Regions from separate parts of the Homo sapiens genome. Here region 2 is linked to region 1. A link means that fine-mapping ties the variant in region 1 to the expression of a gene that starts in the linked region. Tissue or cell type: whole blood. Region 1 holds a variant in brackets; the other region holds the start of a gene. All regions are shown on one strand. Distances are from middle to middle.

The links. PIP is the estimated chance that this variant, and not a neighbour inherited with it, causes the effect.
Region 2: it holds the start of GXYLT1, and the variant in region 1 is fine-mapped to the expression of GXYLT1 in whole blood (INTERVAL, PIP 0.97).

The regions. Positions count from the first base shown.
Region 1 is chr12:42,062,239-42,064,998 of GRCh38, reverse strand. No RefSeq gene overlaps it. Among named protein-coding and RNA genes, the nearest start is that of GXYLT1, 81 kb to the left of the region's middle. The variant T/C (reference allele first, on the strand shown) is at 1,061.
Region 2 is chr12:42,143,215-42,145,974 of GRCh38, reverse strand. It overlaps GXYLT1 (glucoside xylosyltransferase 1), which reads left to right and starts at 1,101. Exons shown (of 8, transcript NM_173601.2): 1 at 1,101-1,549. The coding sequence starts at 1,329. RefSeq lists an enhancer at 674-743 and silencers at 904-1,403, 1,484-1,713.

The DNA.
Region 1 (2,760 bases):
TGCAGTGGCCGGTTGTTCCTTTCCATGTTTAGTGCTTCCTTCAGGAGCTCTTATAGGGCAGGCCTGGTGGTGACAAAATCTCTCAGCCTTTGCTTGTCTGTAAAGTATTTTATTTCTCCTTCAGTTATGAAGCTTAGTTTGGCTGGATATGAAATTCTGGGTTGAAAATTCTTTTCTTTAAGAATGTTGAATATTGGTCCCCACTCTCTTCTGGCTTGTAGAGTTTCTGCTGAGAGATCAGCTGTTAGTCTGATGGGCTTCCGTTTGTGGGTAACCCAACCTCTGGCTGCCCTTAAGATTTTTTCCTTCATTTCAACTTTGGTGAATCTGACAATTCTGTGTCTTGGAGTTGCTCTTCTCGAGGAATATCTTTGTGGCGTTCTCTGTATTTCTTGAATTTGAATGTTGGCCTGCCTTGCTAGATTGGGGAAGTTCTGCTGGATAATATCCTGCAGAGTGTTTTCCAACTTGATTCCATTCTCCCTGTCACTTTCAGGTACACCAATCAGACGTAGATTTGGTCTTTTCACATAGTCCCATATTTCTTGGAGGCTTTGTTCGTTTCTTTTTATTCTTTTTTCTCTAAACTTCTCTTCTCGCTTCATTTCATTCGTTTCATCTTCCATCACTGATACCCTTTCTTCCAGTTGATCGCATCAGTTACTGAGGCTTCTGCGTTCGTCACGTAGCTCTTGTGCCTTGGTTTTCAGCTCCATCAGGTCCTTTAAGGACTTCTCTGCATTGGTTATTCTATTTATCCATTCATCTAATTTTTTTTCAAAGCTTTTAACTTCTTTGCCATTGGTTCGAATTTCCTCCTGTAGTTCGGAGTAGTTTGATCGTCTGAAGCCGTCTTCTCTCAACTCATCAGAGTCATTCTCCACGAAGCTTTGTTCTGTTGCTGGTGAGGAGCTGCGTTCCTTTGGAGGAGGAGAGATGCTCTGATTTTTAGAGTTTCCTGTTTTTCTGCTCTGTTTTTTTCCCATCTTTGTGGTTTTATCTACCTTTGGTCTTTGATGATGGTGACGTACAGAGGGGTTTTTGGTGTGGATGTCCTTTC[T/C]GTTTGTTAGTTTTCCTTCTACCAGACAGGACCCTCAGCTGCAGGTCTGTTGGAGTTTGCTAGAAGTCCACTCCAGACCCTGTTTGCCTGGGTATCAGCAGCGGTGGCTGCAGAACAGCAGATATTGGTGAACCGCAAATGCTGCTGCCTGATGGTTCCTCTGGAAGTTTTGTGTCAGAGGAGTACCCGGCCGTGTAAGGTGTCAGTCCGCCCCTACTGGGGGGTGCCTCCCAGTTAGGCTACTCGGGGGTCAGGGACCCACTTGAGGAGGCAGTCTGCCCATTCTCAGATCTCCAGCTGCATGCTGGGAGAACCACTACTCTCTTCAAAGTGGTCAGAGAGGGACATTTAAGTCTGCAGAGGTTACTGCTGTCTTTTTGTTTGTCTGTGCCCTGCCCCCAGAGGTGGAGCCTACAGAGGCAGGCAGGCCTCCTTGAGCTGTGGTGGGCTCCACCCAGTTTGAGCTTCCTGGCCACTTTGTTTACCTAATCAAACAACTAACTTGGCAATGGTGGATGCCCCTCCCCCAGCCTCGCTGCTGCCTTACAGTTTGATCTCGGACTGCTGCGCTAGCAGTGAGCCAGACTCCGTGGGCATAGGACCCTCTGAGCCAGGTGAGGGATATAATCTCCTGGTGTGCCGTTTTTTAAGCCCATTGGAAAAGCGCAGTATTAGGGTGGGAGTGACCCAATATTCCAGGTGCCATCTGCCACCCCTTTCTTTGACTAGGAAAGGGAATTCCCTGACCCCTTGCGCTTCCCAGGTGAGGCAATGCCTCGCCCTGCTTTGGCTCGCGTGCAGTGCGCTGCACTCACTATCCTGTGCCTACTGTCTGCCACTCCCCAGTGAGATGAACCCAGTACCTCAGTTGGAAATGCAGAAATCACCTGTCTTCTGCATCGCTCACGCTGGGAGCTGTAGACCAAAGCTGTTCCTATTCGGCCATCTTGGCTCCTCCGAGAAATGATTTTTTTTTGAGAGGGGGTCTCACTTTGTCACCCAGGCTGGAGTGCAATGGTACGATCTTGGCTCACTGCAACCTCTGCCTCCCTGGCTCAAACAATCCTCCTATCTCAGCCTCCTGAGTAGCTGGGACCACAGGTGTGTGCCACCATACCCAGCTAACTTTTTGTATTTTTGATAGAGATGGGGTTTCACCATGTTGCCCAGGCTGGTCTCAAACTCTTGAGCCCAAGTGATCCACCCACCTAGGCCTCCCAAAGTCCTGGGATTACAGGCATGACCCACCATGCCTGGCCCCGAGAAATGATTTTAAAAAGTAGCAAATGTGAATTTGAATGTGAGTCAACAAGCTTCATGTATCTGAAAAGTGAATATTGAATGATAGCTCGAATAATCCATGCTTATCACAAAAGAGAATTGAACTCTCAGTCATATACCTGTAACCTAAATACTGAACTATCTTGATGGAGATGTAACAAAGTAAGATGGTTACATCTTTAAACTTATATGATCAAGTTGATAATTTTCTTTTAAATGAGAAAAAAGAAGATAGAAGCTTATTCTCTCACATAAATGTAGTCAAAGCTGATTTGGAAGTTCTGTTATTATCAGGGACTCAATCTCCTTCTAGCCTGCTCCTTGGTCATTCCTAACAAATAGCTTCCACCAGTAGTATAAGAATGCCATTCTGGTTCCATCTACCATCTCCTTTTTAGCTATGGAGAAAAAAAATGGAA
Region 2 (2,760 bases), 81 kb before region 1:
CTGGCCCCTTCTACGCGCTTATCGCTCATCATACCCTCTCTTGCATTCACTTAGCTGGTGGTATCAAACTTCTCAACAGTTCCCTACACAAGAGCCTGTTTATTGATCCTTCAGCCTGGAATTACTTCCCTTACCCGACTCAAGACTCTAGCGCCACCTTTGCTATGAAGTCTCTCTTGACCATACTCACAGATAGAACTGATTGTTCCTTTGTGTGTATGCCCACACCCTTACAGGCCTGGATCTTAAGTCTGTTATCACTGCGTTGCGCTTATTTACAAGTATCCGCTGTCCCACCCACGCTCCACTTAGGCCTCTTTATACCCCTAGGTACTCACACAGAGCTTGGCACAAGTGATGCTTTATAAATGGTCAATGAATGAACGTAGTGGAAACACAGAAGAAGAGGGAGAAGAACTGGGGAAGAAAGAAGCTCTGTGGAGAGAATACTAATTGTTTTGCACATGAAAATAATGAGTTGTGAGGGAGGTCAAAAAGGTCAAAGGGAAGAGCCCTGCCTTACAGGAACTCACTGTCTGCTGGGAGGCAAGAGGTAAGGTCCGCATACCAAACACACGAAGCAATGAGCTTATCGGGGTGAAAATGGCTCGTGCACATTATAGTATCACAGAAACTTAGAGGCTGGGGGAGGATGGAGAGGAAACTGGCCTAGTCAAGTGTCTTCTAAGTGTTAGGCGGTTTTCGAGCGTTAAACAGTTTAATCTTTACAACCACCCCATGATGAGGATAGTAGCTCCATTTTAGGGACGAAGAAACATGCTCAGAGAATTTAGGTTGCCCAATGTCACAAACTACCATGTGGAAGGACCATAATTAGAATTTAGGTCAACTGCCTCCAGAGCCCTGAGGCTTTCGCTCCCCCTCTCTCGGCGGTCGAGACCCACAGGGCTCCCATTCACCTGCGCGTCGGCCTGCGCTAGCTATAGCCCTCAGGCGCGCCGCGTTCCGCGCACTCACACCACCCTCTGCGCGCCAGCCCTGCGTCCCTCCCACGCGAACTGCGCCGGCGCGTCCAGCCCTCCCGCCCGGGGGAGGGGCGGGGTTGCGTCGCTGCCGCTGACCCTTGAGCGCGCGGCGGCAGAGGCGGTGTCCAGGCTTCCGGGCGGGTAGTCCTTCGGCTCCGGAGCCGCGACTGCGCTCGCCTAGGTGGTGGGCGGGGAGGGAAGGAAGGGAGCGGGCGCAAGGCGGCGGCGGCGGCTGCGGGTGAGGAACTTGTTGCGCCCGCGGCTGCGCGGTGCCCCTCCCTCCGCTCCAGTTCGTCGGGGCGGGCGCGGCGGCGGCGGCGAAGGAGGAGCGCGGCCGGGGCGATGCGGCGCTACCTGCGCGTCGTGGTGCTGTGTGTGGCCTGCGGCTTCTGCTCGCTCCTTTACGCTTTCAGCCAGCTCGCCGTGTCCCTGGAAGAAGGAACGGGCGGCGGTGGCGGGAAGCCGCAGGCCGCGGTGGCTTCCTGGCTCGCGGGCGGCGGACGCGGCGCCGTGAGAGGCGCCGGCGTCGCGGGCCCCGCAGCGCATCCCGGCGTGTCGGACAGGTACGGGCAGTTCCCGGTGTGGGGGACGCGGCGGGCGCGGGGCGCTGGGCGCGGGCTCGGCCTAGCCCGGGCTGCTCGCCGGTGGGTGCCGCGTCTCCCGCGTCTTTCCTCCTGTCTCTGACCCCTCACTCATTTCCCTCCTTCCCCTCCGGCCGGGGCTAAACCTGCGCTGCTCCCGCCTGAGAGTGTCCTACACTTTCTGTGTTTATCTTTTGACCCAGTCATGCGCCCTTTAAAGCAGTTAGAAATTAATTTTCAACTTTTTAAAAAGAGGGTTCTTTGAAAATAAGAGGTGTCCACAAAAGCCTTACTGCTGCCTGGCTAGTGAGAATTTCCTCTTGTTTCAGTGGAGTTCAAGTTGAGATATTTAAACATGAGGCTGGCGCCCTAGTTCAGTGTTTAAGGATTGTGTGTGTGTGTGTGAGTGTATATGTGTGTGTATTTTGTCCCTCATGCTGATTTTCCTGTGTTAACGCTTACACTTCTAAGTATTAGCCATGGTTAGTTAAATTTGGAAATGGCATTTGTGCGGGTTGTGAAATTTTCTTTTGGAAACACTCAGTTTATTAAGAAACTTAGAGCAAATTAAGAAAAATGAGCGATACTTGGCGTGCTCAAGTCTGTTGTTGGATGGGATGGAGTTACCTTTCTTGACAAATTGGTATTTAAAAAGCGACGTAATGACTTAGGACGTAATCACTGCCAGAGTGGGAATCAACATGAGATTTAAATAGAAAAAAAATGTTTCTGTCAACGCATTATGAATGCTTGAAATCTGAGCGTTTGCACTGCCTTGCAACATGGACACTTCCACCTTATGTATGGGCATCTCTCTGGGAATGACCTGAAGTGCTCCCTACCAAGACTTGGCAAATGCTGCTTTGATATAGAGAAGTATAGGGTTTGTCGGAAGAGGGAGTATAGATCAGTTGTGGGCTGTTGTTTAACATCATTTTGAGAGTCGATGGTCATTCCCAGAATGAAAGGGGAAAGTTTGGGCAGAGGAGCAGCGTGGAAAGCGGACTTGTCATGTTTTTACCCTGAGATTTGATTACAGTCAGGGTAATTCCTACATCAGGACCCTCAGTTGTCTGTCCTGGGAGAAAGCAGTCACTGAAGACTTGAATGAGCTCGTGAAAAATGACAGGTTGAAGCTAAACTGTTTATGGCCTAGTATGTTATTGTGAAGCATTTGCAATTATGGAAAAGGA